2 linked regions of the Homo sapiens genome follow. The protein of the gene in region 1 purifies or fractionates together with the protein of each later gene. This does not show direct contact. Each region holds a gene or a part of one and is shown in the gene's direction. Other genes may lie near its edges. The genes, in order: GLS2 and HIP1R.

Evidence for each region.
Region 2: the proteins of GLS2 (region 1) and HIP1R purify together in Homo sapiens (affinity purification with mass spectrometry; one large-scale study listed by BioGRID and IntAct). This does not show direct contact.

The regions. Positions count from the first base shown.
Region 1 is NC_000012.12:56,474,485-56,478,292, reverse strand, and holds part of GLS2 (glutaminase liver isoform, mitochondrial isoform 1 precursor), read left to right. Parts: exon of another isoform or gene 1-30; coding exon 31-110; exon of another isoform or gene 111-196; coding exon 197-360; exon of another isoform or gene 361-574; coding exon 575-633; exon of another isoform or gene 634-2,315; coding exon 2,316-2,348; exon of another isoform or gene 2,349-2,610; coding exon 2,611-2,669; exon of another isoform or gene 2,670-3,109; coding exon of another isoform or gene 3,110-3,182; coding exon 3,183-3,249; exon of another isoform or gene 3,250-3,396; coding exon 3,397-3,447; exon of another isoform or gene 3,448-3,572; coding exon 3,573-3,749; exon of another isoform or gene 3,750-3,808.
Region 2 is NC_000012.12:122,841,945-122,845,752, forward strand, and holds part of HIP1R (huntingtin-interacting protein 1-related protein), read left to right. Parts: intron 1-3,808. UniProt on the Homo sapiens protein: Component of clathrin-coated pits and vesicles, that may link the endocytic machinery to the actin cytoskeleton. Binds 3-phosphoinositides (via ENTH domain).

The DNA.
Region 1 (3,808 bases):
TCTCCCTTTTCTCTACCCACTCATGTCCAGGTGGCAGCCTACATCCCTCAGCTGGCCAAGTCAAACCCAGACCTGTGGGGTGTCTCCCTGTGCACTGTGGATGGTCAACGGTGAGATGCTGGGCAAGAGGAAGGGGAGGCAGGGCACAGGTGCCGAACACAGGCCAACCCCTTTCATGGCATCTGTCTGCCTCCAGGCACTCTGTGGGCCACACAAAGATCCCCTTCTGCCTGCAGTCCTGTGTGAAGCCCCTCACCTATGCCATCTCCATAAGCACCCTAGGCACTGACTACGTGCACAAGTTTGTGGGCAAAGAGCCAAGTGGCCTGCGCTACAACAAGCTCTCCCTCAATGAGGAAGGTGAGCACTACCAAGGCTCAGACCGTACTTACAGCTGTCCCCTTCTCCTTATCCCCACCCCATCTCCCAGCCTTTTTTGTTTCTCTGCCCTTCCTGATTAGCCCTGTCATGCCTTTCTCCCTAGCAGTCTTTCTTGTCTAACCCACAAAGTGAGCGGGCTGTCAGGGAGGCTTTGTTCAGTGGCTAAGACTCTTGGTGGTTTGTATTTCCCCAGGAATCCCCCATAACCCCATGGTCAATGCTGGTGCCATTGTTGTCAGCTCCCTGATCAAGGTCAGTGCCACCTTAACCTTCTGATAGGTATTATCCTCTAAGCTCCTGTGTTCCTGTATCCCTCATATTTGTTCAGCTCTCCAGGGAGACTGGTGGGGCTCTGATTCCTTTGAGGGTCCCCAGAAGGCACATGAGGCACAGCAGGGACCCACATGTTATGCTGACAATGTCAGTATAAGAGACTGCACCACCTCCGTCATCCCCACTCAGTACTGTTCCCTGCCCCCACCCATGAGTCTAGAGCCTAGAGCTTTCTGACCCTTAGAGAAGTGAGCAGGTCCTGACCCCTGCCTAGGACCAAGGGCCAAATGCCAGAGACAAGGGGAGGACAGCACTATTGGGCACTGATTGGCCACTTCTGGGTGTGGGACACCTGCAGGCAAGGGTGAATGGCCAGGCCAGGGCAGTTATTCACGTCACCTGGAACTGTGAGTTGGCCTTGAACAGGGTGTCAGACTAGCCCATCAGCTGTAGGTCTCCCAGGGCTTGAGCAAGAACCTGGGAGCAGCTGGGCAGCAACACCCTGGAGCCAATCACAGCCCCTCCTGGGGAAGGTGGTGTTAGGAATCCTCCCCTCAGGGACTCAGGTATCAGAGTCCCTGTGGTATTGACTCTGTAGTTGACACATGAGTAAGCAATGAGTCTGGGTGAGGAAAAGAGGCTGAGTCTCTCCCCTTGTTCTGTGATGGCTCCATCTACAAACCTGTATCTGGGACCTGCCTCATCCCATTCCCATCTAAGTAGGACCTTTTTTAAAAAATATAGAGGCCAGGCGCGGTGGCTCACGCCTGTAATCCCAACACTTTGGGAGGCCGAGGTGGGCAAATCACGAGGTCAGGAGATCGAGACCATCCTGGCTAGCACGGTGAAACCCCGTCTCTACTAAAAATACAAAAAATTAGCCAGGCTTGGTGGTGGGCACCTGTGGTCCCAGCTGCTCGGGAGGCTAAGGCAGGAGAATGGTATGAACCCGGGAGGCGGAGCTTGCAGTTGAGCCGAGATCCTGCCACTGCACTCCAGCCTGGGCGACAGAGCAAGACTCCATCTCAAAAAAAAAAAAAAAAAAAAATTGAGGCAGGGTCTCTCCTATGTTGCCTAGGCTGGTCTCAAACCCCTGGTCTCAAGCGATCCTCCTGCCTCAGCCCCCCAAATTGCTGAGATTACAGGCATGAACCATCATGCTGGCCAATGGGATGGAGTAAAGCTCCAGCATGGGGTGTAAGGAATGGGGATGGAGATCAGGGATAGGGTGGGGCTAGGAGACAGGATTCGAGTCAGGAAAATGAACGTGGGAGTCAGGGATGAGGGTTTGGATTGAGAATGGAAGTGGGATGGCCCAGCAAGCTGGCTCATGCCTGTAATCCGAGCTACTTGGAGGCTGAAGTGGGAGGATCGCTTGAGCCTGGGAGGTCAAAGCTGCAGTGAGCCATGATCGTGCCACTGCACTCCAGCCTGGGTGACAAGGGTGACAAAGCAAGACTGTCTCAAAAAAAAGAAAGAGAAAGAGAGGAGCCAATGGAAGTGCGGTGTTTTCAGAAGGATAAAAAAAGGGCCATTATAAAATTGAACACATTTGCAGCAGCAGGACCAGACTAACACTAGAACTCCACTAGATCCTTCTGACCCTTCCCTCTGTCATCCTCCTACACTTAGAATGCTGACATCTCTCTCTTTCTCTGCAGATGGACTGTAACAAAGCAGAGAAGTTTGATTTTGTAAGTTCCCTTGCTACTTAGCCCCTGGCTGCATTTCGCCATGGCATGCTGTCCTCTCCAGCTGCCCCAGTGGCTCTCTAACCCCACTACCAGGTGCACCAGCCCATACTAGAAGCCTTATTTCCAGAAATGTGGAAATCTGCTGGCCTCAGAGAGGAAAGCCTCTTGACAAGACCTGAGTTCAGAAGGGCTAGTCAACCTGTGAGGTATTAATAGAGCTTCTTAACCAAGTGGAGCCTCAATGTCCCTTTTTCTCTTCCAGGTGTTGCAGTATCTCAACAAAATGGCTGGGAATGAATACATGGGTTTCAGCAATGCCACGTAAGTCCCTACTCAGAGGACTGACTGAAAGCATTGTGGTGTATGTGTGTGTACTTAGGATGGGGACAAGAGGAATGGGGGAGAGAGAATCTTAGGAGGAAGAAATCCCAGGGGAACTTTGGCCCTCCAGCTTCCTCTGAGTCCCTTCATAAACATTTGTTTATCTTGTAAAATAATTTGTTCCATTTCTAATTAGTACATAATGAGAGAGGCAGTGTGATGGTTTGTGCCTAAGCCCTTTCTTGCCAAGACTTTCAAAGCCAAAAACTTCACCAGTTTTCCTAGATGACTAGACAGTTTGGGGTGTTTGGTTTGGGTTTACTTTATAACAAAACTATGCTGAGTGTTTGCTCAGGTTCAGAAATTTCCTCTAATATTACTGTGAGAAGTTATAAAGGGGTTCATTTAGTTTGTGGTGTGATGTAGTTCTGTCTCTCCAGGGAAGGTAATTTTTCCCCTTCTCCCAACACCCACTCCTCCAACTTCAAGTACTAAATTGGGTGTTTGCTTCAGATTCCAGTCAGAGAAGGAAACAGGGGATCGGAATTATGCCATCGGCTATTATCTCAAGGAAAAGAAGGTAACCAGAAGAGGCCGGAAGAGAAAGTCCCTGGGAATTCTGCTGCTAGTGGAAGGGCAGTAGGGGTTGGGGGCTTCAGCTGAGACCCTGACAGTGTGAAAGGGCTGATGTCCTGAAGAGAAATGCTCTCCCCTCTCTTCCTTGCAGTGCTTTCCTAAGGGGGTGGACATGATGGCTGCCCTTGATCTCTACTTCCAGGTAAGAAAACACTGCTCAGGGCCGAGGGAACAGGACAGACTGTCCTTGCCCTTGCCCTTTCCCTACACCCGAGGGTCCCATGTGCAGGTTCACGTCACATCTTCACCTATTCTTTGTTTTCATAGCTGTGTTCTGTGGAGGTCACTTGTGAATCAGGCAGTGTCATGGCAGCCACCCTCGCCAACGGTGGGATCTGCCCCATCACAGGCGAGAGTGTGCTGAGTGCTGAAGCAGTGCGCAACACCCTCAGCCTCATGCATTCCTGCGGCATGTATGACTTCTCTGGCCAGTTTGCCTTCCACGTGAGTTTCTGGCTCTGCTATCCATCTGTCATGAGCCCAGTGCTAAGAAGAGAGAACAC
Region 2 (3,808 bases), about 66 Mb from region 1:
AGGCCTGGGTGAGAGTGAGGGGAGATACAGGTTAAATGGAGCGGAGCAGTTGCCCCTGACTTCCTGTCTGCTGGAGCTGACCCAGCTGTCCGCCTCGCTGCTTTGCGTGTGGCCATATCCCGGCCTCCTCAGCTACAGAAACCCTGTGTTTGCTCTGTCAATGGCCTTTGAGGGGACAGACGCATTTGAATGAGATCTCTCTGTCCTTCAACCAACTCTTTGGAAATGTTAAAGCAAAATAACCTACCGCTCTGCCAGCGTCCGTCCGTGTGCCCCAGCTCTTTGAAGAACGTTCTTGTCCCTGCCAAGTGCTGCTGTTAGGTGCCACGATAATACAGCACAGGGAGGCTTACGTCTGATTCATTTCAGCGTTGATTTTAAAAATAGAAATTGTTTTATAATTACTTTTACTCTGCAGCTCTAGTGGATAAATTATTAGCTGGAGAAGGAGAGACTCAGTGCCCTGAAGTCGTCCAGTACTTGTCTTTGAAAGAGCTCTTGTCCTTCGAGTGTTCACCCTTCCATTTGCCCAGTGGGGATTTGCTGACAGCCAGATGTTGGTTTGGGCCTAGAGATACAGCAGGAAGGAAGATGTCCCTGTATTCGGGGGTTGGAGGTGGGGACAGAGTATGATCGGTGGACAGACAACTCCGGAGCCTCCTGGGCCACAGGGTGCCGCGGGGTTGGCGTGTGGGGCAGCCGCTGCCTGGAGCCTCCCAGCTCAGTTGCCTGGCTTTGCTGACAGTGCCCATTCCTGCGGTCTGTTTCCATCTGGACTCCACATCAGGCCTGGGCCAGCAGCCTCTCGGGAGCGTCCCCTGCCTCACCCTGATCTCCCCTCTTCTGAGGCAGCACTCACTGAGATGCTCGCTGGGGTGTGCCCCATGAGTCTCAGTCCAGGGACCAGTGCAGCTCTGGGCTGCTCACGAGTCAGCGGGCTCTGTCTGGCCTGATTGTTCCTGGAAGCAGGGCAGGTGTATCCTGAGGGCTTGGGCTCCCCCTGGCCACTGGACTGAGCTGAAGGCCGCAGCCCAGAGGCAGATGCCCTCGCCCCAAGGGATGGGGGTAGTGGGAAGGGCCCTTGGCTCTGCCAGCCCCAAGGCCTTCGTTAACTTGAGATTTGAACAAATCCTGATCCGGAGCCCACTCGCAATTTGGAGGCATGTTAGCAGGCCCTTGGGGAGTGGGGCTCCTGTGGTGGGACGATAAGGATGTCTATGCTGACACACTTCTCCCACACCCAGGCCTAGCCCGCACCCTGAACTGTGAAGGCCATGCAGCCCAGGGCCGCCTGGGAGGGGCCTGAGGGGCTCCATCTCCATCTCTGGTCCATGTCTGGCCCACATCTTTTTGTTATTTATGACCTTGGACAGGTGGTTAACCTGCAGCCTCAATGTCCTCCCTTGCCCACCTGCTCCGAGGTTCCTTGTGAACATTAATGAGGCAACACTGGAACAATGCTGTCTGCTCGGGGGCCCAGTACAAGGCTGAGCTCAATAAAATTGAATTTATTAATAGGTTATTGAGACCTGTCTGCTGGCCTTATGGCATAGAGTATGTTCTTACACACTTGGCGATGCCAGCTATCCTGAGTGTATCTGCAGAGCCTCACCTGCCCCCTGGGCCCCTGGGTGCCCCTGAGCTTTGTCCCCACTCTCTGTCCTTAAAGGTCAGGCCCCTCCTGCTGCCAGCACTGGGCAGGATAAGAGCAGGCTCAGAGAGTTGTGAGCAGGTGGCCCCTGGGGCGTGGGTGTGGACTCCGAGGATTTTTCGAGACCCGAAAAGCTGCAGGGTCTGTGGAACCAGGCAGGAGCTGACCTCACTCTGCTTCTGCCCCTCTCTGCTGTCTCTGCGGACCCTCCAACTCCCTTCTGCAAGGTGTCTCACGGCGCTGTGGAACTCTCTATTATTGTTTTGTTTTGTTTGAGATGGAGTTTAGCTCTGTTGCCCAGGCTGGAGTGCAGTGGCATGATCTTGGTCACTGCAGCCTCCCAGGTTCAAGCGATTCTCTGCCTCAGCTTCCTGAGTAACTGGGATTACAGGCACACACCACCATGCCCGGCTAATTTTTGTATTTTTAGTGGGAGTTTCGCCATGTTGGCCAGGCTGGTCTCAAACTCCTGACCTCAAGTGATCCACCTGCCTCGGTCTCCCAAAGTGCTGGGATTACAGGCATGAGCCACCACACCTGGCCTATTATTTTTACTTTTTAGAGGCAGGTTCTCACTCTGTTACCCAGGCTGCAGTGCAGTGGTGCTATCATGGCTCACTGCAGCCTGGAACTCCTGGACCCAAGCCATTCTCAGCCTTCTAAGTAGCAGGGGACTACAGCCGTGCACCACTACACCCGGCTAAGTTTTAAATTATTTTTGGTAGAGATGGGGTCTTGCTAGGCTGGCCTTGAACTCCTGGGCTCAAGTGATCTCCCACCTCAGCCTCCCAAAGTGCTGGGATTATAGGCGTGCGCCACTGTGCCTGGTCCCCCTCCATTATCACTTCTGTCCTGCTTCCTCCAGAGACCTCCCCTGACCCAGCCAGACACCCCTCCCTGTTGTGCCCAGCAGTGGGAAGAACAGCATCCTCCTCCTCATGCTCTCATGCTGCACATTATCACTGCATCCCCTGCAGAGCCCTGGTCCCACAGCCACTCACAGCTGTGTGGAAACTGCCCTGCCAGGCTGTGTGTGAGGCCCCTGCCTCTTGGGAGCTGGATGGGAGCTGTGGGTGCTGAGTAGCGGACAGACCCCGGGGCGGTCACATGTGTCCTTATGATCTTCCTTTCTCTAGCACTGGGTTTTTCCACCCTGAGCTGAGGTCCATAATCAATCCCTTCCACTCCTCAAAGGCTGCGCTGCCCTGAAGGGGTGTCTCTGGCAGCTGACCAGCCAGCCTCTGGCCTGTGTCAGAGCTGCTGGGGTTGTTCTGCCCGAGGGGCCACATGGGGCACAAATGCAGGCTAGAGAACCCAGGGACAGGCCTGGGCAGCCCTCTACCTCCCATGGCACGCTGCAGTTTCCCCACCTTCAAAATGGGGAGAACTACGTTCACCCCACTCGGCAGCTGTGAGGACAGCATGTTGAGAACCTCAGGACCCAGAACCAAGTATTGCTGGCAGTTGGACCTGCCTCGGGACTGTAAGCCTCAGAGCGGAGCTGCGTCAAGGACACCGTGTGGGTCTCACCACAGAGTGAGCCCGAGTGCCTGCTGCTGCGGCCCTCAGAACCCTGGAGCCACTTCCGCAAGGGAGGGTCAGCAGCAGACGGGAGTAGGTGGGACATCACTGGGACCTGGCGGGCTTCTCCCGGGACAGGGCTTAGCTGCTACTGCCTGGTCAGAGGCGAGGCCCACGGAGCAGCCACAGACTCCCACTGTGCGAGCACTGTGCCTCCTTGTGTGGCGCTCTGAGCCTGGTGCACACATCTGCCCATCCTAGACACAACGGGGCTGTGTTCCCAGAGCCAGCCGGCACCCTGCCCGGGAGGGCCCTGCTGCCACGGATCCTGTCCCCTGCCGCCAGCGCGGGGAGCAGGCAGCACTGAGGCCCAGGCGCACAGGAGACCATGCCATGTGCCCAAGGCATGCCCCGTCACACTGCATTCCTGGGGCCTCCCTCCTGCCATGAAAGTCATTTGCATGCCAGGCACTGTTGAGGAGCTGGGGGTTCAGCAGCACCTATAGGCCGATCTGCTTCCCCTCGTGTTGCTGACTGCTGGGTGAGGGGAGAGGGTGATAAATAAGGAAACACTCCACTGTCTGAGGGTGCCCGGCCCTCAGAGACCATCCATCCAGAAGGTGCAGATTTCAACAG